Homo sapiens: one gene and its partners. The protein of the gene in region 2 interacts with the protein of the main gene of each other region in a pairwise test. Each region holds a gene or a part of one and is shown on either strand. Other genes may lie near its edges.

Evidence for each region.
Region 1: the proteins of ZNF441 (region 2) and PCSK6 interact in binary tests that used the Homo sapiens proteins (3 or more experiments, as listed by UniProt).
Region 3: the proteins of ZNF441 (region 2) and TEX48 interact in binary tests that used the Homo sapiens proteins (3 or more experiments, as listed by UniProt).
Region 4: the proteins of ZNF441 (region 2) and SPRY1 interact in binary tests that used the Homo sapiens proteins (3 or more experiments, as listed by UniProt).

What each region holds. Positions count from the first base shown.
Region 1 is NC_000015.10:101,388,678-101,395,712, forward strand, and holds part of PCSK6 (proprotein convertase subtilisin/kexin type 6 isoform PACE4-AI preproprotein), read right to left. Parts: intron 4,748-7,035; coding exon 4,535-4,747; intron 888-4,534; coding exon 787-887; intron 1-786. UniProt on the Homo sapiens protein: Serine endoprotease that processes various proproteins by cleavage at paired basic amino acids, recognizing the RXXX[KR]R consensus motif.
Region 2 is NC_000019.10:11,762,926-11,770,003, reverse strand, and holds the start of ZNF441 (zinc finger protein 441), read right to left. Parts: upstream 3,005-7,078; 5' UTR 2,811-3,004; coding exon 2,808-2,810; intron 1-2,807. UniProt on the Homo sapiens protein: May be involved in transcriptional regulation.
Region 3 is NC_000009.12:114,679,162-114,686,105, forward strand, and holds the start of TEX48 (testis-expressed protein 48), read right to left. Parts: upstream 3,032-6,944; 5' UTR 2,874-3,031; intron 2,705-2,873; exon of another isoform or gene 1,998-2,704; intron 1-1,997.
Region 4 is NC_000004.12:123,399,776-123,404,271, forward strand, and holds the end of SPRY1 (protein sprouty homolog 1), read left to right. Parts: exon of another isoform or gene 1-19; intron 20-1,761; 5' UTR 1,762-1,816; coding exon 1,817-2,776; 3' UTR 2,777-3,980; downstream 3,981-4,496. UniProt on the Homo sapiens protein: Inhibits fibroblast growth factor (FGF)-induced retinal lens fiber differentiation, probably by inhibiting FGF-mediated phosphorylation of ERK1/2. Inhibits TGFB-induced epithelial-to-mesenchymal transition in lens epithelial cells.

The DNA of each region.
Region 1 (7,035 bases), on a different chromosome or scaffold from region 2:
GAAAGGAAGAAACCACTTCACGCCCATCAGGATGGCCTAAAAAAAGGAAGGAAATTTTGATACGTTCTACAAACGGGTGAACCTTAAAGACGTTATGTGAAGTGAAATAAGCCAGGCACAAAAGGACAAATCCTGTGTGATTCCACTTACATGAGGCACCTAAAGCAATGAAATTCATAGAGACAGAAAGTAGAATGGTGGTTGCCAGAGGCTAGGGCGGGGGGTCAATGGGGAGTGTTATAGGCTGAACTATGTCCCCTCCAAAATGTATTCATCGAAGTCTTAGGCCCCAGTACCTCAGAATATGATTATATTTGGAGATAAGGCCTTTAAAAAGGTAATTAACATAAAATGAGATTATTAGGGTGGGCCCTAATCCAATATGACCAGTGTCCTTATAAAAAGAGGACACAGCAGAAGGGGAGAAGTCAGCTTTCTGCAAGCCAAGAAGACACCAACCCTGCTGACACCTTGATCCAGGAATTCCAGGCTCCAGAACTTTGAGAAACTAAATTTCTGTTGTTTGAGCTGCCCAGTCCGTGGGACTCTGTTACGGCAGCCTGAGCTGACTAACCTGGGCAGCTGCTGTTTAACGGGCAGAGGGTTCCAGCCTGGGAAGAAGACGAAGCTCTGGGAGAGGGATGGTGGTGCAGGTGCACGACTCACTGAATGTGCTTAATGCCGCTGAGCTGTCCACTTCAATAGGGTGAAAATGGCCAATGTCATGTGTATTTTACCACAATCTAAACATTTTTTTTTTTTAGAAAAAGGTAAGTGGGAACTTACTTTGCTTCTAGAGCCAAGGCGATGATGCCCGCCACCATGGGGGCAGAGACTGAGGTCCCAGTGTGGCCATCGGTACAGCGCTGACGCAGATCCGTGGTGACCTGGGGGAGAGAGAAGCACAGTGAGGCAGTGATGGCAGACAGGCTAACTCACTCTGTGGAGAAGGCTGGGCTACTTCAGGTGCCACTAACTGGCAAGCGTGACCCTGGGTCTCGGGAACAAATAAGGTGTTAGGCAAATGCATCTCGGCAACCACAGGTTTCCACAACATCTGGTGCTCCCTGCTAAATCACTTTGTAGGAAGACAGGCAGGGGCAAGAAGGCCAGCTGGGAGCACAGACCGTACGCTTTGATAATAATAGATCAGCTGGTTCCCTCTCTACTGCAGAAGCGCATGTGGAAAAAATGGTAAAACAACATGAAACCAAGACGCACCCCACAAGCCCTCATCCCTGGGTCTGCCGGACTTTGTGGCCTGTCACCAACAGCCGAGAGTACCCACGGCAAAACCATCAGAGTCCACACTAGCTACCCCTAAGTCACCCCCTGACTTCAGAGCAGCTAGAGATACCCAGGTGGCTCAGAGAGAGTTTCTGCCTTTAGCCAGTAGGTCATAAGCTGGGTTCTCCACCAGGACGTCCTCCTGAAGAAGCAGATCAACCTGGCATGTTCTTGACCGCCCAAGGCCTACTGCACAGGGCAACAAGGCAGGTACCGCTAGCTGGGGGCTCTGCCTGCCCTCCTCGGAGGCACTGGCCCAGGCTGGGTGTGGGATGGATTCTGGACCTCACTACCACTCAGGCTGACGTGTATCTCCCGTTGGACTCAAACGGGAAGTGGGTGCTGGGGGTTCAGCCTGTGTGGGTTCAGGTGTGCTAGGTGGGATTGTCGCCCCATCATCTTTGTCCCCTGGTGTTATTCCAATGAGCTTTGCAGATAGAGTTAAGGTTGGTAGCCAGCCGACCTTAAACCAGGAAGATTATCCTGGATTATCTGAGTAGACCTGCTGCCACCACAGGGCCCTCCACCTTGGAAGAGGAAGGCAGCAAGGCTGTTTGAGAGAGGAAGCATTAGAAGGACTGGACCCACCGCTGCTGGCATTGAAGAGGGAGCTGAGGAGTAAGCCAATGAATGTGGGTGGCCTCCAAAGGCTGAGAACGGGCCCCAGCTGACAGCCCACAAGGAAATGGGAAACTCAGTCCCAGAACCACAGGGACCTGAGTTTTGCCAACAGCCCGAGTGGGCAAGGAAACAGATTCTCCCGGGAGCCTCCGGAAGGAACCACGGCCCTGCCAGCACCTTGGTCTTGGCCTCGTGAGACTCAAAGCAGAGACTCGGCTGAGGCTCCTGGACTTCTGGCCTACAGGACCATGAGATATCAATTTGTGCTGTTTTAAGCTGCTAAGTTTGTGATAATTTGTTATGGCAGGAATAGGAAAGTCACACCCACCCACCCACCACAGGACTCCAGTAGCCGATTTGCCTAACCTTTGAGAATCAATTTCACAGTGAGAGCAATCCAGATCCTCTTCCGAACTCAGCACCTTCCTTGCACACGTTTGAGCTGGGCCAACTGTCTAGGGAAGGTGGGGGTCTGGTCTGTGTCACACACAGGAAGATGTGACGGGAAGGCCAACAGAGACCAGTTTCCTCCTTGTTCGTTTCAGTGGGGCTGGGGTACCTCAACATGGGGAGGGCAGCTGAGGGCATGGGAAAAGGGACAAAAATGCTCCCTCTCTGACTCCAGCATCTTCATATGCAAATGGACACCATGATATAGATTTCAGGGGTTCTCGGCAGATCACAGCCAGGCACCTGAATGTACTTGGGCTTGGTAAATGGTGGCCAGGAGGAGAAACTAGGGGTGGCTGGGCAGGAGGCCACGCTCCCAAGAGCATGTGAGGCTCACAGCTGGTTCTCCAGCTTCAGAGAAGGGGGTCCTGGGGAGCGAGCAGAGGGGCCTACCCTGGGAGGGATGGCTGAATCAAGGTGGACAGCCCCTCCTGAGTCCTAGTGCCACGCCTGGGACACAGCTCGTGTTCAGTGAACGAACATACCCTCTTGTTCTGGTGAGAGATGCTTTCTTTAGGTTTTACTCCTCTATAAAGAGTCATGTGTCACCACAGGACATCCCTCGCTCCAGGTGGACACACCTGCTCACATTCCTCAGACTCAGAGGGACAGAGAATGCAGGCGGACAGGGTTGTGATCGCCATCACAGGCCTGCCTGAATGCTGGGACTGTGATATGTCGACTATCCTGAGCAGCACTCGTCTCCCTGGAGGACGTCTAAGAGGACTCAGAACAAAAGCTGGACTCTAGTAGAGCTGAAAATAACACCCCTCCTGTCAGAGCAGACTTCCCGGGCAGTGACCAAGACAAAGTATATTTTCTCTTTTACCGTTCTCCAAACTATACCCTTCTTACCCACATATTATTGCTCAGGGAAGAGAATTTTAAAATAAGAAAGAAAAAGCATTTTATAGCCAAGGCACGCACACATGCATGGCATACAGATCACACGCTGACGTGATTCGTAATGCAAATAAAGCTGCAAGTCCTACTTCCAGGGTTGAGAGACACCATCCTGCCTGCACGCAGTCCATGTTATAAACTGTCCCATAACTTAGCAAATTCGAACCTGCATCCATTCGGCCAGCAAGACTATGTTGGGTTTTGGCCAACTGTCTGTCTAATAAGACCCTAGCAGGTCCGTGCTCAAATGAGCTGGATTTCTACATAAACAGGACACCATTCAGCATCTCAGCTGCCCGTCCCAGGGGTGCGTACTCCAGCAGAAAAGGAAAATAACAAATTAATACCTTAGTTAACCAGGCCGAGCTGCTACCAGGCTGGCGACAGAACGATGGCAGCTGACCTTTCACTGGTGCGGAGCAAAGCCGAGAACAGGAAGCCTGTATGCTCCCACAGAAAAGTGTAAAAATAAATTTGCAAATAACTTCGAAAGATGTGGCTGAGCAGCCGCAGAAATGAAAAGATGCTAGTGAGCTTTAAAATTTAACCATGTCTGGCCAGCTCCACAGTCTCATTTTTAAAATGTCTACAAGTCAACGTAATGACTTTGCACTTCAATTCTGCATTAATTTGAACTGGAAACCCTCCCTTCCTCTTTTTTTTTTTTTTTTTAAGTAGGAAAGTATGTAGGGAAGGAAAAAGCACAAATTCTACCTGAGTACTAAAACAGTTACCTTTTAAAAGACAAATCATGCTTATGTTCACTTAAGTAAGCGGAACAGACAGAAACCACTGCTCGACTTAAAGTGTCCAGAAAAAGTGCTTCTGTAGCAACAGAATGCCTAGAAGAACTCCTGGATTTCTAGAATGTCTCAGTATAAAACCAAGTCTTTCTCTTACTCTGTTGTACACGCTGGAACTGGATGGGTTCATTGGATTCCAAGACATGTGACCACAGAATTTCAGAGTTAAAACAAGACATCATGAGAAGGAACCTCGTTCTTAAATAATATTTTTAGATCTCTAAAGCCAGAGAGGGGTTTAACTGCTATTTCTGTGCAAAGATTAGAAAGCCAGTGTCCGAGGAAGGCTGCCAAGGGACTGGGGTTTACCTCCAGGCTCAAATTGTTCGCCGATGGGTGAGGCTGGGACCCTGGGATCCGGAACAATCTGGCCTCAATCTAAGCCATCTTTCTGAGAAAGGGAGAAGAAACTCATTCCCAGAGGGCTGAGGCACTCACTGTAAGCACTCCAACTTGCCAAGAGAACTTACGATTTTTCGCTCATAAAAGGCCCCACTGCTGTAGGTGGTGGCCAGGGTGGAGGCACACTCTTCCAGGTACCAGGGCTTGTAGCCATTCTCGGTGGCGCTGCTGACGGAGATGGTGTAGATGCTGTTGGTGTAGCCATCGCACGAGCAGTAGTCCCCCTCTCTCCCGCCATTCCCAGATGCCCAGACGAAAATGGAGCCCAGGCCCTGCCGGCCCTGGAGGGACAAGAGGAACAAGGCTTAGCCCCGCAGCAGAACCTCGTAGGGTGGGTCTCCCCCCGAACCTAGAGTCCCATCTCCCAAATGTTCCTTCAAAGGGATAAGAAGGTTGCATTCAGACCATCTGGATGCTGCTGAGAGCATGGTTTTGGGGGCTCTGTTTGGATTTTAATGGTGTGCCTTTGCCTGTAGCAGCAGCCTTAAAATTGCAGAATCACAGGATCATACGAGGGGAAGGGGCCAGAAAGACTCCTCTGTTCTTCACAGGAAAATCAAGGGTCCCAACACAAGCTGCTCTATTCCAGAGCCATGCCTGTCATTTCCATCGCAATGGCCTAGGATCAAAGAGAGCTAGCAGTGCTGCAAATGACACTGAGATTACAGATGATGGAAGAATTTACAACTTTAATTTTTCTGGGTTGAAAGAGCTGGTCTGGTGGGGAAAAGAATGATTTTTCTGGAAAACATACTTGAAGAGGTACCCTTCTTGCAGAGAGAGCTAAATTTGCAAAGAGGGATAGGACCATGAACTCTGCGTGAAGACAGAATAGGTGGAAAGGGTTACGTCCAGGAAGCTGGTAGCAGCTTGTGGGTGTCCTGTCAGAGCTCCCTGTGGTCTCTGCAGTGGGTAAGTATCAGGGTGGTCTGATTTATATCACTAGCCAAGGCCAGGGCCTCATTTGTGTGTAGGTTTTCTTTCCGTTTTTTTGTTTTTTGTTTTTTTTTTTTTGAGACAGGGGTCTTGCTACGTTACCCAGGCTGGTCTGGAACTCCCGGGCTCAGGTGATCCTCCTGCCTTAGCCTTCAGAGTAGCTGTGCCTATAGAAGTGTGCCGCCATGCCCAGCTGTGCACCGGTGTTCATTGTTAAGAACGTACACATGAAAGCAAGTCTTTGAAAGACAGCAGCCAGTCAGGGCAGATTCCTGCAGCTCCGCTCTATCCCATACCCACAGGATGGATGATTTCTGACCACACTGAGAATCATTCCAGCCACAAGTACCAGCTAAAGATTAGCGAGTGGAAGACTGAACTGACGGATATAGTCCAGATGGCTGGATGGGCTGGTGGTGCACAGCTGGCCCGAGAGAAGGGCCAGCATCCACCTCCACGGGAAACTGGAGCCACTGGCTGGCCATCACATCCTTACTAAGGACCGTCCTTCCCAAACAAACAGAGGAAATTTATACTTATGCTCAACAATCGGCCAATTTAAAGATAACTTACACACCAATTCTGCAATCCCCGTAGAGCCAAATTGAAGCCTGCTGCTGACCAAACATGTCACACTCACTTTTGGAGCACAATGAGTGGACCCGCCTGCTCTGTACGCTCACACCACGGGGGTTTGTAAACCAAGGAGACTCCAGCTCCAACTTGAGGCTCCCAAGAAAGCCCACAGGAAAGTTCTTGGAGCTCACGCAGCCCCGCTGCTTAAGGCTGCCGCGTCCACTCTGCTTTCTGCATCTGCAAGGTGAACCTGTCGGGGTGGCCAAGAGCTCAACAGAAAGGTCCCTCCCAGAAAAGCTAACCTTCTGAGAGAAAGGCACAAAGAGCTCAGGAAGGTGGTGTGTGTGTGCACGTGATTACCTGCAGGAAGAGATTCAGCTGAAGCCGGTTTAAAGCAACTACAATGCAAATCAAAAGGTATTTAACCCATCAGAGCCTGTCCTTATTCCAGGTGAGAATTAGTCCTAGACACTGCCACTCCTAACTCCCCACCCCACTTGAAATGACTTATAAAATGTTGTCCTTTTGCAAGGTGGAGCATGCAACCTTACTGCTCCAGGAGCAGAGAATGGCCAAAAACAGTGCTCCCCAAACTTGAATGTGCACACCCTGGAGTCACCTGGGAACCTGTTACAATGCAGACTTGTGCCCCAAAGTCCAGGGTGGGCCTGAGAGTGTGCATCCCTAATGAGCTCCCAGGGGACGCCAGTGCTGCTGGCTCTGGACCCCACTTTGAATACCAAGAGCCTGAAATGCTCAAGGTTTGCATTTACAGCATGTAGCATGCATTTACTATGAGACCAACCCATCCTCATAGGCATCAAGGTACCAACAACCTTTCCCCTCCTTAAAACGGTTTCTGGGAAGGAGACATGGAAATGAGGCGAGGAAACAGCCAGGTCTGAGGAGTGTAGAGATGTTTTAACTGTCTCTGACGACTTTATTTTCACTTCCCAGATCTTCCAGTGGCTTCATGGAAGCCATGGGACAGAAGCTGTAGGGGACATTTCAACCCTAGCCATGAACTTGCACTTCTTTTCAGTAAACTCACAACTTC
Region 2 (7,078 bases):
ATGCCATCTGCAAATCAAGAAAGAGGCCCAGGCTGGGCACGGTGGCTCACACCTGTAATCCCAGCACTTTGGGAGGCCGAGGTGGGCAGATCATGAGGTCAGGAGATCGAGACCATCTTGGCTAACATGGTGAAACACCGTCTCTACTAAAAATACAAAAAATTAGCTGGGGTGGTGGCATGTGCCTGTAGTCCCAGCTACTTGGGAAGCTGAGGCAGGAGAATCACTTGAACCCAGGAGGCGGAGGTTGCAGTGAGCTGAGATCATGCCACTGTTCTCCAGCCTGGGCAACAGAGCAAGACTCCATCTCAAAAATAAAAAATAAAAAAAAAAAGAGTCCTTTAGTAGACAACTGACCTGCTGCTTGAAACTGAATTCTCAGCCTTTATAGCTTTGAGAAATGAATATCTGTTGTGTAAGGCATGCAGTCTATGGTAAATTTGTTATAGCAACCCAAAGGACTAAGTTAGGAAGGGTCTTTCTCTACCACACATCAAGGCTTTGAAGACTATAGTAATCAGGAGAGTATGATATTAGCAGACTGATGGATACATAAACCAATGAAAAATGGCAAATTCTGGAACAAGAGCATCTACTTAAGGTACAAGAACCTATGACACAGCAGGTATTGCCAGGCAGTGATACAAATGAGGGACACTTCAACAGAAATGATGGAGACAAATGGTTACCTACAGGAGAATAATCCATCTTCTGCCCAGCATCTCCATATACAATGATCAACTAACTATAGACTTTCCAGTTTTCATTAATTTTTACTCAGTTTGTTACCTCAGCTTCCATTTTGAGTGTGGTTTCGTTTTTCCATACCAAAAAAGGGGTTTTATGACCCTTGACACAGTTTCTAGTTCTCTATCTTCTCCCAGTTCTTCAATTTGGTTGATCCATATGCATCCCTTATACCATCATCTCCTTTCACCACCTCCCTATGGGTGCAGAGTGTGTCAAGTCAGGTCCTCCTATCACCTGGAACATCCCCCATCACCATGCTGCTCACCGAAGTGCTCAATAACCATGATCCCAGGAGACACTACATTGTTAGCTTTTCAGGTTCTTGCACCACCTCAGTGGAGTTGGTTTTCCTGTCCTTAGGGATAGTTTTCTCCCTTCATTAGTCTGAGAACATCAGAAGGGAAGAATCATTTCAGTCCTGTCCCCTTAATACCACCATCCAATTGGCTGACCAGCCATATATCCCCAAGGAAGGGATGGGGGAAGAAAAGCTGAGTGTTCTAAGGAAGTAGCTTATTGAGGAAGGGTATACCAGGAGACTCCTCCCACTACAGGGCATCATGCTGCTTCCCTACAAGGTCCCACCATCTCCACCTCAGGGTGTCCTCTGGGAGGAGTGACAAAGGGACTGATATTCACTTGACACTACAAGAGACTTGGCAGCTGTGGGCATCTTGGGGTGGCCCCAGGCAGCTCTGAAACCCAGGACCAGGAAACCATAGAGGATGGGCTGGGGACTCATCACTCTGTAACGTTTCCAAAGAGGAAACTTAATCCAAAGACATTCTCAAAAGGTGTCTCTGTCTAGGGATGATGAAGGGAGGACAGTAACAAAGATTTTATTTATTAATATTCATTTTTTTTACAGCGAAATGTCTGGTGGTTTTTCTCTGCTTCCTCTCATGTGAAATGTTCACAAACACAAAACCTTTTACAAAGAGCCATATATTGCTATGTATAAACAAAATGACAATTAAAATACTAGCCTCTGTTTGAAAAATAAACTGGGGGACAAGGAGTTCATAAAGTTGCTGTGAATTGAGGAGAGAAAGCCTGAGGAAGGCTCTGGAAGCCAAGGGATTTTCTGTCGGCCCTAGGAGGAGTTAGGATGAGAGAACACAGTGGTGGACTTGAGACCCTGCTGCCCACATCTTTGGAAGACTCGAAGGCGAACGGGTCACCCTTGGGAAGAAAGAAGGGACAGGGGACCACACAGACCACAACTCCTCCCACACACAAACCCCACACACGAGTCTGCCTGGTGACCTGTCATCACCGTGCAGCCTCCTCACCGGGTTCACAGAACTGCGAGCCAGGCTGGAGGCGAGATTGCAGTTAGATATTAACCAGGTGCCCTCAGCCCCGCTGCCTCGCGGGGCCGCCTCCCCAAGAGTCAGGCCACAGCAGATGCTGACCGCCGGCTTCGCCATTGTGCTTGGGGATGAGATCTCTGAGAGTTGCTCAAGAGTCGCCTGAGTTCTTTCTCAGATCCTGAATTCCAGCGGAAAGGCTGGCGCCAACCAGGCTGAAGACCCCACAAGGGAACCCACTCAGCAGAAGAATGCGGTTTCTTCACCTCCAGTCCCAAGAGTCACCCCTCACTTCCCCACCATCCAGCGACCCCACGCCCCAGCCGCCCCTGTCCACACCCCTAAACACCCCATCCCCAAACCTCTCAGGAAGGCGGATCTGGGGTGTCCTCCCCTCTCCCCCTATTAAACTGTTTCTGCTGCAGCCCTCGGCGTCTCGGTGCAGTGACTCGGGCCGCGAACCTGTGCCGGTTACAGCCGCACAATCTGGGGAGACGCAGGACTGCGGGCGCGGAGCTGCCCAGACAGGCCTCCAGGGCCAGGGCCGCAGTGGCCGCGCAGGGACGGGACAGGACGCCCGGGGTCCCGGCTGCCGCCCCAGCCCCATCGTGCGGCCGAGGGAACCGAGGGCCGAGCTGCGCCAGGGTGTCGCCGGCGGGGAAGACCTGGTGCCACCACAGCCGGTTCCGGCCGGTTCCAACCAGTCTCTCCTCTCACGCGTCGGGACACCAGACCTCACACACTCACCATTTCCCGGCTTCCGGCGTCCAGGTTCCTCCCTCTGCCTCCCGCTGTCAGTGCGGGTCCCAGCGAGACAGAAGCTGCCACAGACGTTCCAGGGCGTCTCTCAGTGACAGAACCCGGAGCCCAGTGCAGGGGCGTGGAGAAGACTCGGCGGGCTCTTTGAACCTTGCACCCTCCTCCGGTCAGTGCGCCTGATTGACAGTTCTCACGACCCCGCCCCGCGGCCCTGATTGGATAGTGCGCCAGGTCCCTCCCCCGGGCACTGAGTAACGGAAGAAGCGATCTCGGGCAGCGGAGTGGAACCTGATAAACAGATTCCAGACAGGCCTTGAGAGGACTAGCTTCCTCCCTGCGCTGTGACCTGACCCCCTCCCAGGGGACATTTGCATTTAGGCAGTATGTCCTGACCTTCCTCCTTTTTCCTCTTGGACAGGGACCCACAAGTCTGTGCAGGAAATTCCAGACTCACTGTCCAGTGGAGCTATCCCCTGATTTGAGAGCAGGAAGGGAGCCCAGGCCACACTGCAGCAGAAGGGAGGGGCTGATGTCCTCCAGGAATCAGGAGTTTTGGATGAGGCTGTTGGCTGCACAGGCCAAGCCTTTCTCCCACCTTATGTCTCAATCTACTAATTTTCAGTGCAGAATATAAAAACACCCCAACAAAGCCGGGCGTGGTGGCTCACACCTGTAATCCCAGCACTTTGGGAGGCTGAGGCAGGTGGATCACCTGAGGTCAGAAATTCGAGACCAGTCTGGCCAACATGGTGAAATCCCGTCTCTAAAATACAAAGATTAGCCGGATGTGGTGGCGCACGCCTGTAGTCCCAGCTACTCAGGAGGCTGAGACAGAGGAATCACTTGAACCTGGAAGGCAGAGGCTGCAGTGAGAGAGTGGGCGAGACAGAGGGAGACTCCGTCTCAAAAAAAAAAAAAAAGAAAAAAGAAAAAAGAAATAAATAAAATTGTTAAATGTGTGGAAAAACTGGAATTATATGGCGGCAATATTTTATAAAGCAAAAACTTGAACTAGCTCAGATAAGCAGCCTGCTGCATCCACACACAGTTCACAAGTCAACCACTTTCAGGAGGCCAAACATATTCCAAAGCTTGGAGGCCAGACGATAATTCCTGAAATGGAGCCCTAGGGTGGATCAGAACCTGGGGATGAGTCAGGGGCACTAATGGATTTAACTCTGGGAGTTCAATTTGCCCTCCTGTCTCCTAAACACAGCGTGGAAATGCTCCTTCCATCAAGCCTATAAATGTTATTGAATTAAATGCTTCAATCAAAGGCTGAGACATTAGACTTTGAATTTGAAAACATTCATCTTCATATTTTTATGAAGAATACCAGATATAAAAGCATTATGAGGCCAGGCACCGTGGCTCATGCCTGCAATCCCACCACTTTGGGAGGCTGAGGTGGGTGGATTGCTTGAGCTCAGGAGCTCAAGACCGGCCTGGGCAATGTGGTGAAACCCCCATCTCTATTTAAAAACAAACAAAAAAAAAGCGTTATTAACTGGGAGCTGGCACCCATGGTGATACGAAGAAAAAGAGGTTTAATTGACTCACAGTTCAGCATGGCTGGGGAGGCCTCACAATCATGGTGGAAGGCAAAGGAGGAGCAAAAGCAAATGTTACATGGCGGCAGGCAAGAGAGCGTGTGCAGGGGAACTGCCCTTTATAAAGCCATCGGATCTCATGAGACTTACTCACCCAAATCTCATTTTGAATTGCAGCTCCCATAATCCCCACATGTCATGGGAGTGATCCAGTGGGAGGTAATTGAATCATGGAGGCGGTTTTCCCATGCTGTTCTCGTGATAGTGAATAAGTCTCATGAAATCTGATGGCTTTATAAAGGGCAGTTTCCCTGTACATGCTCTCTTGCCTGCCGCCATGTAACATTTGCCTTTGCTCCTCCTTAGCCTTCCACCAACACCTGACCAAATGGATATGACATCTACAGAACTTTCCACCCAAAACCAACAGATTATACATTCTTCTCCTCACCACATGGCACATACTCTAAAATCAGTAACATAATCAGACATAAAATAACCCTCAGCAAATTAAAAAAACAAGCAAACAAAATCATACCAACTGCACTCTCAGACCACAGTGCAATAAAAATAGAAATCAAGACTAAGAAAATCTCCCCAAACCATACAATTATATCAAAATTAAATGACCTGGTTCAGAATGACTTCTGAGTAAATAATGAAATTAACACCAAAATCAAGAAATTCTTGGAAACTGAGAAGAAAGATACAACATACCAGAATCTCTGGGGCACAGCTAAAGAAGTGTTAAGATGGAAATTTATAGCACTAACTGCCCAAATCAAAAAGAAAGATCTGAAATTAATAACCCAATATCACAACTAGAAGAACTAGAGAAGCAAGAGCAAACCAATCCCAAAGCTAGCAGAAGACAAGAAATGACCAAAATCAGAGCTAAAATGACCAAAATCAGAGCTAAACTGAAGGAAATTGAGATACAAAAAAAAAAAAAAACATACAAAAGATTAGCAAATGCAAGACTTAGTTCTTGGAAAAAAATAACTTAAAAAGTCCCAAATAGTCAAGGCAATCCTAAGCAAAAAGAACAAAGCTGGAGGCATCATGCTACCAGACTTCAAACTATATACTACAGGGCTACAGTAAGGTATTTTTACAAAAACTGACACATTACCAATGGAACAGAATAGAGAGCCTAGAAATAATGCTGCTCACCTTCAACCATCTGATCTTTCACAAAGCTGACAAAAACAAGCAGTGGGGAAGGACTCATCAATGGTGCTGGGATAACTGGCTAGCCATATGCAAAAGATTGAAACTGAACCCCTTTCTTAAACCATATACAAAAATCAACTCAAGATGGATTAAAGACACTTTTCAAAAGAAGACATGCATGTAATCAACAAGCAAATGAAAAAAAAAATGCCCAATATCACTAATCATTAGAGAAATGCACATCAAAACCACAATGAGATACCATTTCACACCAGTTAGAATGGCCATTAATAAAAAGTCAAAAAATAACAGATGCTGGGAAGGTTGTGGAGAAAAGGGAATGCTTATACTCTGCTGGTGGGAGTTTAAGTTAGTTCAACCATTATGGAAAGCAGCGTGGTGATTCCTCAAAGCACTAAAAACTGAATTACCGTTTGACCCAGCAATCCAATACCCATTTACTGGGGTATTGGATCCACATACCCAAAGGAATATGGATCATTCTACCATAAAGACACATGCACACCTATGTTCATTGCAGCACTACTCACAATAGCAAATATATGAAATCAACCTAAATGCCTGTTAACAGTAGACTGAATAAAGCACATTTGGCACATATACACCAAGAAATACTATGCAGCCATAAAAAAGAACAAGATCATGCCTTTGCAGAAACATGGATGGAGATGGAGGCTATTATCCTTAACAAACTAACACAGGAACAGAAAACCAAATATCACATATTCTCACTTAATAAGTGGGAGTTACATAATGGGAACATGTGAACACAAAGAAGGGAACAACAGACGCTGAGGCATACTTAAGGGTGGGAGGAAGAAAAGGATAAGAAAAAATAACTATCAAGTATCATGCTTAGTACCTGGGTGATGAAATAATCTATACACCAAACTCCCATGACACAAGTTTGTCTATATAAAAAAACTGCATATGTACCCTGGAACCTAAAATAAAGGTTAAAACTAGACATTTGAATATTATAATAAGAGTAACTCTGTAAATCAAATTCTCCCCCTTCTTTTTTATGCGATTTATGTTCGCTGAAGGCTGTAATTGCTTATTTGTTTGGTAATCTTGTTTATTTCAGAAGTGTATTTATAGAGACTGTATTCCCTGTCCAGTGTAGTCACTGAGGTCTCTGTCCCTTTAGCTTATATTCACCCAGTGTTCTGACAATGCCAGAAACTGAAAGAAAAAGAGAAAATGAAACAAGCAAAAAATTGACCTCTGTCAGTCTCTGTGGATGGATCTGAGCTGGAGAATTCCTCGAATCCTTAGCCCAGCTGCTTAAAGCTCTGCTTCACCCTTCTCTTTCTGTTTAACCAAGCCTCAAGATCTGCCACATCTGAAAACGATGGTCTTGGGTCTTTTGTGAAAATGTGTTTTTCTGTCGTTTGACTGCATGGGGCTTAATTCCTCAGTATACCCTGGTGCTTTTTTTTTTTTTCTTCTTCCAGGTCTCAGGAAACTACCTCCTATAACTGGGTGCTTTATTTTATTTTAAATAAGTAATTA
Region 3 (6,944 bases), on a different chromosome or scaffold from region 2:
AAAGCTCATATCTAAAATAGAGGATTTAGAAAAAATCAATTGGAATGGGAAATTCCATTAGTGTAGATATCTTGATCATTTTCCAAGAGTCCTAAAATGTTAACTAGAAATCGAGATAATCTTTTGACCTACTAGATAAAACAACTGGCCCCTGAAATAAAGACAGGACCCAAATCTCCTCTGTTCTTTAAGAATTTGGAGTCTGTGGAGAACACTTGCACTTACTGTATGCAGAAAGGCCATTAGAAGAACTAATGTTCCATGTCAGAAGGACAGCTGTCCATATCTGTCTACTGAGTCTTTCTGAGGAGAACTTTGCACTTAACATTTTCCTATTTTGCCTCTAAACTCCCAAAGGGCATTGTCTATAAATATAAATGAACAGCTATACTGCTTGCTTGTTGATATGGTTTGTTTCTTATGTGGAGATCAGACTCTTCTATTCCAACTATAATTAAGACTAATTGTTCTGCATGATGAATACTTAGACCATTCCAGTGCATGATTCTCCAGCACCCACGGTGGACTATGTCTTCTTACACAGAGTCTGAAGGGATGAAACCCTTCTTGGGGGTTTAACTACTAGTAGATGAAACAGACTTCTGAGGATTCTGAGTTGAACAATTTAAAGTGCCTTTTTTCCCCTCACCTTGACTGACACAGCAAATCATGTAGCCCACACCCTAGGGTACACCTGACCAATTTAAAATCCTTAGTTTGAGTAATTATGGATCACAGAAACCTTCGGGTTTTATTTTAGCTAATTAGGGGAGTCTGCACCATTGCTAACACTCCCGTTGTGCCTGGATTAATATCACAGGTGAGGTTAATCTATAGCTAAGCCCAAAGAAAAAGCAGCCTGGCTATCTAAGGTAGATGGTCATGCCAGGGAAATCATGGGGCATGACTCCAGAGAGGCTTTCAGATCTTTTTGAAAATACTTTTAATTGTCATTGTCCCTTTTTTTTTTTTTTTTTTTTTTTGAGATGGAGTTTTGCTCTTGTTGCCAGGGTTGGAGTGCAATGGTGCGATCTCGGGTCACTGCAACCTCCGCCTCCTGGGTTCAAGCGATTCTCCTGCCTCAGCCTCCCGAGTAGCTGGGATTACAGGCATGCACCACCACGCATGGCTAATTTTAGTTTTTAGTAGAGATGGGGTTTCCCCATGTTGGGTCAGGCTGGTCTCGAACTCCTGACCTCAGGTGATCTGCCAGCCTTGGCCTCCCAACGTGCTGGGATTACAGGCGTGAGCCACTGTGCCTGGCCTTAATTATCATTGTCTTGCATCATTCAGGTTCTGTTGTCCAGAGAGCTGAATGCTTTTATGTAGCCTCTGGTTTGACAAATGGTGAAACAAATGATTCAAAGAAAAAATGAGAAGAAATGAGGCAGACTGATACTCAAAATGAAAACCAGATCTCTGTACATGGAAAAATGGAACTGTGTTTTCAAGAAAAGCCAATGACAGTGGTGAAGATCTGGACAATCTTGGAGGGTCTTTCCTGCACCTTTAGTTGAGGGAGACCAGAAGGCAGATAATGAGAATTAAAAAGAGAAGCTCCCACATTCCTAGGTGACGATGGATTGCCCTGTAACCACGGTAACAACGAATCCCCAGAACCTGTGTGACACTCATTTAATCTATTAATGAAACTCCCTTGGTAACCATTCTAACAGACACATGCCAGTAGGTACATTTCATAGCTAAAGGTCTACCATTCCTAAACACTGCTGCCTCTGAAACACCACCAGTCCACGAACTCAACACCTCCCAAAGCCCCTTATGCATCAGCCATGAGCTTTGTTCAGAGACTTTGCCATACAAGCACAGTTCTCCCTTGTTTAACCAGAAATAAATTCAGTTTTTGTTTCATGTAGTGAATGCAGGCATCTTCCACCAAAGCAGCTTATGGATATACAAGAAAATGTAGTTATTCAAATTCTCTTTTTCTCTCTTTTTAATGCAAATGATAGCTTACTATACACCACGTTTTGCACCTTGATTTTTTTCAATTAAAAATAAACCGTGGAGATCGTCCGTATTATCAGCAGCGATCTGAAGCGCAGGTTTGTTGACACCCCGTGCTGATGCTCTCTCCACATCTTTACTAGAAAATTTTGCAAGAAAGAGGGTAGTAGAACCACTTTCTCCTCTAAGTGTTGACAGCAGAGAGCTTTGAGTTTTTGAACCCTCTTCAAGAAATGAAAAGGCTCTTAGGGAGAGCAGTGTATCAGTTACAAGCACATTCTCTGGGGGTATAATTCTTGGAGATCTACTGTTAGCTAGGAAATTTAGAATTTATGACCTCTTTGAATCTCTGTTTTCTGACCTGTAAAATGGGGATGAGAATAATAGTATCTACAATAGAAGGTAGTTCTGAGGATTAAATAATGATGGAAAGTGCTTAGCACAGCTTTCTGGTGTGTCGTAAAGGCTTAATAAATACAGATGAAGGTTCTGATGCTGATGAATATGTAGGGAGATGCCTAGGGGATGTGTGGCACTTCTTGCACTACCAGTGACCCCCTCTAGAGGGAAGCAGAAACCAAAGAAGAGGGCCCTTGGGTTGTCCCCAGTGGGTATGAACTTCAGGTCTCTAGTGACCCCATTGCACTTTGATCAGAAGAAAGATGAATGAGGTCAAACAGGAAGGCTTCTGGCGCTGCGGGCGGGGGTGGGGGAGGTCATTCAGCACAGGTGGAGACTGGGACCCAGAGAGAGAGAGAAACAGTGAGGTTAGAGCAAATGAAGGATGGGGATTGCTTCTTGGAGCAAAATGAATAGGTGTCCAGGAGTGGTGGGGACATTGTGCCTTTTAGTACAGAAAAATTATCACCTCCCGCCCTTTGGTTTAAACTGTGAGCCCCACTCACCTGCAGCTGGCAGAGTAGACAGAAGGCTGTCTGTGATGTCACAGAGCTGGGGAACCAGGGAATGTTGGGGCTGGGATGTTTGGACTGGACCACAACAGCGAGGAGGAGGGAGAAGTTCTGCTGAGCACGATGCCATGCTGGCCACCAGACTGTATACTGGGGCACAAGTCCTGGGGCCTCAGGAAGCACCTAGAGGATGGCCAGAAGGGGGCAGTACAACACTGGATGCTGTAGATCTGGGTGCCATTCTGTCTCTGTCCGCCCACTGGGTAGTAACCTTAGGCAAAGTGACTTCACGCTCAGGTTCTCCCTCTGCAATATGGGAATAATAATAATTTTTTTTTCTTTTTTGAGACAGAATCTCACTCTGTCACCCAGGCTGGAGCACAGTGGTGCAATCTTGGCTCACTGCAGCCTCCGCTTCCCAGGTTCAAGCGATTCTCATGCCTCAGCCTCCCAAATAGCTGGGGCTACAGGCATGCACCATCACGTCCGGCTAATTTTTGTATTTTTAGTAGAGACAGGGTTTCACCATGTTGGCCATGCTGGTCTCGAACTCCTGACTTCAAGTGACCCCCCCCCCCCCACCCCACCACCTTGACCTCCCAAAGTGCTGGGATTATAGGTGTGGCCTTCGCCTGGCCAGGAATAATAATAATTATATGTCCTGTTTGCATTTTTAAGTATTAAATGAAATCAGGTAAACATTTAACATGGTATCTAGATGTAGTAAGCACTTTAAGAAAGGGTAGTTATTAATAACATATGCAAAAATGAAGTGACATTTTCTTCCCTATTTATTTTTCAGAAAAGAAGGAATCACTTTGTATTGGAGTCCTGACAAAATCTCTCAGCTTATGGGGCACTCTTTCCATTCCTTTATTTAGGACAACCAAGTACTATTCATATATGGGGAAGCCACATTGGATTAACATGTTCTCAATCAGTGCTATCATTTGATGCACAGAGAGGTCACTGGATACAATAGAAACAGAAGAAAGCAAAGGAATTCAGCACAGCTGTGGGGTCATTCATGTGGTTGGGGCGGGTGATGTGACTCCACAGCTGTGCTGAATTCCTTTAATAAATATTTGATGGTGAGTTAAACAGCCTTTGAAAGCTCACAGGTAAAGCCACATTCTTTTTTTTTTTAAATTATACTTTAAGTTCTAGGGTACATGTGCACAATGTGCGGGTTTGTTACATACGTATATATGTGCCATGTAGGTGTGCTGCACCCATTAACTCATCATTTACATTTGTTATATCTCCTAATGCTATCCCTCCCCTCTTCCCCCCACCCCACGACAGGCCCCGGTGTGTGATGTTCCCCGCCCTGTGTCCGATGTTGCCCGCCCTGTGTCCAAGTGTTCTCATTGTTCAATTCTCACCTATGAGTGAGAACATGCGGTGTTTGGTTTTCTGTCCCTGCGATAGTTTGCTCAGAATGATTAAAGCCACACTCTTAAATGGTAATTGAAGGTTCTCCATTTTGGCTGCAAGTGAGATTCACTTGAAGTGTTTTTAAAACAAAGAATACCTGGGGCCTAACCCCAGATAAATTATAATTTTGGTAGGGTGTGGAAACTGGGTAGCAGTATGTTTACAAAAATTTCCAGGTGATTCTTGAGTATAATCAAGAACTGCTGAATTCCATTGTGCAGGTCATTATATACAGGTAAGCGGTGGTTCTCAGATCAGGCTGTATATTAGAATCATGGGAGGAGCTTTAGAAAATGCCACTCCTAGCACCTGCTCCCAGTCAGTAAAATCACTATTTTGGGGGCAAGGGCCCAGGTGTCGATAGATTTTACAGCTCCCCAGTTGATTTTAATTCGCAGCCAGCATTAAGAACTACTGATTTATAGAGGTTTTTTTTTAATCATAAATTTCATTGATGTGATACAAATGGATCCTTTTTAGCTTGGGATGAGCTTTTCAGGAACAGCATTATTTATATACAGATTCAAAAGCATTATTTAAAAAATAACTTAGAAATGAAGATAATATATTCTGAAAACCTGTGCTAGATGAGGTTAAAGATGTGTATGAAGCATTTGAATGAAATTGTTTCAGAAAATGAAAGATTGAGGATAGTGATATAGTTTGGCTGTGTCCCTACCCAAATCTCCTCTGGATTTGTAATCAAAATTGTAATCCTCACGTCGGGGGAGGGACCTTGTGGGAGGTCATTGACTCATGGGGGTGGTTTCCCCCATTCTGTTCTCCTGATAGTGAGTGAGTTCTCACGAGATCTGATGGTTTTATACGTGGCAGTTGCTCCCGCTCTCTTCTCTTTCACCTGCTGCCATGTAAGATGCGACTGCTTCCCCTTCTGCCATGATTGTAAGTTTCCTGAGGCCTCCCAAGTCATGCAGAACTGTGAGTCAATTAAACCTCTTTTCTTTATAAATTACCTGGTCGTGGGTATTTCTTTATAGCAGTGTAAAAACAGACTAATATGGATAGCAACACAGGTATTTCCAAATTAATGTATTTTATATAATATGCTCTGGCAAACACATATCAGGTACTGACTACTTATAAGTTGATGCTTGATTATTTCACCCATAGCACTAAATGTGTATATATTCAAATTGGAGAAAATACTTAAAATCTTTGCATAAAGAAACTGCCTTCTGTTTGGGGTGGTTTACCATTCAAGCATGTATGGTGTGATTACTTTCTTCTCTTTGGGTCTGGGAGGGGAGATGGGCCAACAGGCTTCTGTATTAATTTCTGGTTCAGGTAGGGAATAATGAAATCTTGACCTGATGCACTGGGCTAAGACAAATGGGTGGATTTTTACTCTGGTGATTTCACAGTGGGTAAGTTCTGGGGTCCGAGTACCTGGGTGGGACGCTTGCCTTCCTAACTTAATGCATGACCTGGGCCATAGCCATTAACCCCTCTAATTCTCAGTTTCCTTAACTTTAAAATAGAAATAATAATAGAGTTGGTGTGAGGAGTAAATTAGACCAGCCATGGAAAGCTGTAAATGTAGTGCCTGCTAGAGAGGCAGCACTCAATAAATTTTCCTTATTATTATCTGGTGTTGAGAGTGAAGGATTAGCTTTCACACCTGTGGATGTGAAATCAGGGAATTCAATTTAGGTTTTCAAAAGTTTTATTTTGTTTATTTTTATTTTTATTATTTATTTATTTATTTGAGACAGATTCCCGCTCAGTCGCCCAGGCTGGAGTGCAGTGACTCTATCTCCGCTCACTGCAAGCTCTGCCTCCTGGGTTAACGCTGTTCTCCTGCCTCAGCCTCCCGAGTGGCTGGGACTACAGGCGCCCGCCATCACGCCCAGCTAATTTCTTTCTTTCTTTTTTTTTTTTTGTATTTTTTTTAGTAAAGACGGGGTTTCACCGTGTTAGCCAGGATGGTCGCGAACTCCTGACCTCGCGATCCGCCCGCCTCGGCCTCCTAAAGTGCTGGGATTACAGGCGTGAGCCACCGCGCCCAGCCTTGTTTTTAAATAAAGTCTCGATCTGTTGCCCAGGCTAGAGTGCAGTGACATGAACTCGGCTCACTGCAGTCTTGACCTCTTGGGCTCAAGCCATCCTCCCACCTCAGCCTCCCGAGTAGCTGGAACCACAGGCACACACCACCACGCCAGGCTAATTTTTAAATTTTGTGGAGAGGGGGTCTTGCCATGTTGCCTAGGCTAGTCTCAAACTCCTGTGCTAAAGCAATCTTCCCACCTCTGCTTCCCAAAGTGGTGGGATTATAGGCTGAGCCACTGTGTCTGGCCCAAAACTTTATTTTGAAATAATTACAAATGCACAGAGAGTTACAGAGGTAACTTTGTAGCTTTCTCTCTTTAGAGAGAAACAAAGAGGTAACTTTGTAACTTTCTCTCTGCAGACAGTTCCCATGAACCCATCCCCCAGCCTCCTCCAATGTTAACATCTTGCCTTACTATATTACAAGATCAAAATCGGAAATTAACATTGGCCCAATCTACAGAGCTTATTCAAAGTTCAGTCGTTATTCAAGTACTCATTTGTGTGTGTATGTGTATAGCTGCATGAAATTTTATTACATGTGTAGCTTCGTGTAACTAC
Region 4 (4,496 bases), on a different chromosome or scaffold from region 2:
GATGGGATTGTCCGAAAAGGTATTCTACTTCCATTCGCGTTTTCTTGGGGAAGGCAGTGTGCCGAGCGCGTGTGAGCGTGTTTGGGGCTTGTCCAAGACTGTCACTGCTTGAAAATGGGCTTTTCTTCGGATCGGAGGTGGCGAATTTTCTTTGCTTTTAATTTTTTTGTCTGGCAACTTTATTTCCCAGCCAGTATGAAGTTTGTTACAACTATCATTGGAAATGCAAATTGAAGTTGTGCCTGGTGTTATGGGTTACACTATTCAAATCCTCTGCGGTTTTGTGAATCTGGCTTAGTACTTTTAGCTACCTTTTGCTTTGAAAGCACTGAGTTAAGAAGTTCTTGAAGAAGAGGAATAATTGTGCAGGAGTCAGGATTAGATGTTGAGGACTCCGAGACTAAATCCCCGCAGGTTATGAATGTGTTACTCCTCATGCGCAAAGAAGGTAGAATAAAGTAGAAACTCGAGAGAGCTGAGTTGTGAAAACGAGGGGGAGCTCCAAGAAGTTAACATGTAAGACATAGTTTAGAGACATTAGTTTAGGAAATATAGGAAATGGACTTCTTTCTGCGTTGTTCCTTAAACCATGTTTTTTGCCTCAGGTTGGTAGTGGAGAATGGACATTTCTTTTTCTTTTCATTCTTGAATTGGGTCGACTCTGTAGACTTTAGAAGGAATTTGTGTGAAAAATACTCTAGTTCACCACTGAAAGCAGAAACTTTCATCTTTGGCAGTTTGTGAAGAACACATAAATTAGAAATAACTTACTATTAGTATGGAAACACAACTGCTTATTTTTATCTGGATATTAGTGTGCTGATTTTGTTACAAGAAGAACGTTGAATCAGAATTGGCAGTGCGTTTGAAAATCAAGGTCTGTCATGTAAATACAGATTTTTAAATCAGAGGAAATACAGATAATTAAAACTGCCAGGATTTCCCTACACTGCGTTAAAGGCCTCACACTTATTTGTGCATAAAACTTACTTTGTTTTGTGAGTGAGCCCTTCAGCTTAAAAAAAATCCTCTCAGGATTTCAAATATGAGTACTGTTATATATCATTCACTGGACTATACATTGAGTCTTGTGTGTGTGTGTGTTTGTAGCTCCAAAACACCAAGAATCGTTGTGTACCTGATACATTTATTTTTGCATCTCATAGATGAATAATAAGGTAGTTTTAAAATTCTGATTTATATAGAAAATTACCTATTATTTTGCGATTTCATTTTAAGAGTCTCAATTTTTTAATGCCTTAATTTTTTTCATCATTAATCTAATGCATATAACAGCACACAACAAAAAGGCTGTAGCACCAAAGCCATTCTCAATTTCTTAAAAGGTAGACATTTTCCTTTATGGAAGCCACCTATGAACTGATAACTGAGCTTTCTTTAGATGAGAGTTATTCTCCTGCTTATACTCAGTATTCCCTGCGAAGGCATGCTCCATTTTAATTATTAGATTCACAAACAGGAAGGCATTACTTTCTCCTGATTCTGCTTCTTAAAAGTTGGAAAAACTTATAATGTTCATGGCATGGGGTCTCTTGTTTATAGTCTTCCTCTATGATGTGGTCCCCAGCCTCTCCTAGAATTGGACTCTGGCCAGGACCCCAGCATCATTGTAATCCACTGATGAAGGAGGTCATTACTAGGCGGTTTAGGCAATTTGTGATTTGACAGGATTCCCCCCCCCCAAAAAAAATGCTTCCTGTCATTTATTTTCTGTTTTTTTCATCTTTGATTTCGTTTTAGGATTTCAGATGCATGCCAGGTTTCCACTGATTGCCAGAACTCGAGATCACTACACATGGATCCCCAAAATCAACATGGCAGTGGCAGTTCGTTAGTTGTGATCCAGCAGCCTTCTTTGGATAGCCGTCAGAGATTAGACTATGAGAGAGAGATTCAGCCTACTGCTATTTTGTCCTTAGACCAGATCAAGGCCATAAGAGGCAGCAATGAATACACAGAAGGGCCTTCGGTGGTGAAAAGACCTGCTCCTCGGACAGCACCAAGACAAGAAAAGCATGAAAGGACTCATGAAATCATACCAATTAATGTGAATAATAACTACGAGCACAGACACACAAGCCACCTGGGACATGCAGTACTCCCAAGTAATGCCAGGGGCCCCATTTTGAGCAGATCAACCAGCACTGGAAGTGCAGCCAGCTCTGGGAGCAACAGCAGTGCCTCTTCTGAACAGGGACTGTTAGGAAGGTCACCACCAACCAGACCAGTCCCTGGTCATAGGTCTGAAAGGGCAATCCGGACCCAGCCCAAGCAACTGATTGTGGATGACTTGAAGGGTTCCTTGAAAGAGGACCTGACACAGCACAAGTTCATTTGTGAACAGTGTGGGAAGTGCAAGTGTGGAGAATGCACTGCTCCCAGGACCCTACCATCCTGTTTGGCCTGTAACCGGCAGTGCCTTTGCTCTGCTGAGAGCATGGTGGAATATGGAACCTGCATGTGCTTAGTCAAGGGCATCTTCTACCACTGCTCCAATGACGACGAAGGGGATTCCTATTCAGATAATCCTTGCTCCTGTTCACAATCACACTGCTGCTCTAGATACCTGTGTATGGGAGCCATGTCTTTATTTTTACCTTGCTTACTCTGTTATCCTCCTGCTAAAGGATGCCTGAAGCTGTGCAGGAGGTGTTATGACTGGATCCATCGCCCAGGGTGCAGATGTAAGAACTCCAACACTGTCTATTGTAAGCTGGAGAGCTGCCCCTCCCGGGGTCAGGGTAAACCATCATGATTTTTGGAGGTGGGTTGTACCTCCTGAACTTTTAGCTTTCAAGTTGTGGCTGTTTTTTGTTTTTGTTTTTGTTTTTGTTTTCTTTAGAATTTTTCCCTGTTTCCCACCTTCTCTTCCCCTGTTGCCAAGGTCTAACTCATGGATTTTTCTCTTTCCTCATGGATGATCTTCAGCAAGAGTGGACTGGGAAGCTGCACCTGGCTCCCACTTTCAACAAGAGCCTCTGCCATCCACTTGAGGGTATTGAGAGCCAGTGGGCTTTTGTGTAGCCTTTTTGTTCTGCAAGCAACTTTCTAAAGTTGTGTACATGAACATACACCCACATCCAGACTACAGTGATTTAGAGTTGTTTTGATTGGGTACCGTGGGAGCAGGGAAATTGGTTTTTTAAAAAGCAACTGTTTAATTGCTTAAATAAGCTATGTATTAAATCTGTCTCCAGTTAGGGCTATCTTCCTAGCATAGGCCCCTTAAGTAGCATGGGGGATATATTTTTTGCTATAACGTAAAAATTTTCCTTTAACCACTGCCCTCTCCTTCTTTCTCCTTCAAGGTTCTTTCCCCCTCAGTTTTGTTGTTGTCTTACTCTGGAGATGCCAAGTGTATTTTTTCTTTCTATGTAATTTTAGATTCGCCTTACAATGTAAATCTTCACATTGGAGATAATATTGGTTGGACCTTGCCCATCTTCACTCTAGCCTTCGTATTTGTGAAGGACTCAGCCACCTTCCTTCTTCACCCCATGCTTCTCACCAAATTTTTGTTGTCATTGAGGGCACTTGGATAACTCAAGTTGATATTTATAGCTGATCAATCTATATGTGTCACAGAACTATGCTGCCTAAAGTGATCTTGGCTCCTTAATGGTCCTTTTGGCCCCTTGGATAGTTAACAGCTGAGTAATTCTAATCTCTTCTGTGTTTTCCTTGCCTTAACCACAAATTGTGGTGCTTTTTGTATATTTTATGTATAAATCACAAAGTTGAATTCTGACTATTTTTAAGACAAAAGTCTGTTAAACTTTTTTATTGTAAAGAATATTTATTATGCGAATCTCTATTATTTTATGGTATTTATTGCAAAAGACTGTTGAAATGTACTCATGTTTGAATATAACAAAATATCAATACTTAACGGAAAATAAGGTGACACGAAGAAAGTACATATGTTAACTATAATGCAGAAAATATATTAATTAATGAAACTGTCTCTCGATTTCTTCATTTATTAGCCTGTACTATTATGATGATTTTTGCTTATTTGCTTTGACTTTTTCTTCTTACACACCCATTTTACTTCTTTCCCTATAGATGTTGAATCTAGACATAGGTGAGCCCAAATTATGAACTGGATAATTAGGTTGGTGCAAAAGTAATTGCAGTTTTGGGTCATTTTTAATGGCAAAAACACAGTTACTTTTGCACCAACCTAGTATTTCCTGGAAAGTGCATTAATCAAAATTTTGTAATCCAAATTATCTTTTAACAAATGCTCAAGTGAGTTATTTTGTACAGTAAAAATTTTTTGTAATACTCTCTCCCTACTTTGACTATTTTGTAAGCATGAGGTTTTGTGTATATTATAGTTTCTTGAAATGGGGCATATCTACAGTAGAAGCTTTTTTAAATGTTTATCCTAACTTTTAAGTTAATAAAAAGTTAGATTTATCAGCTAGACTTAATGAACTTAGTTCTGTAGATATGCTAGGAGTCGCTGGTAC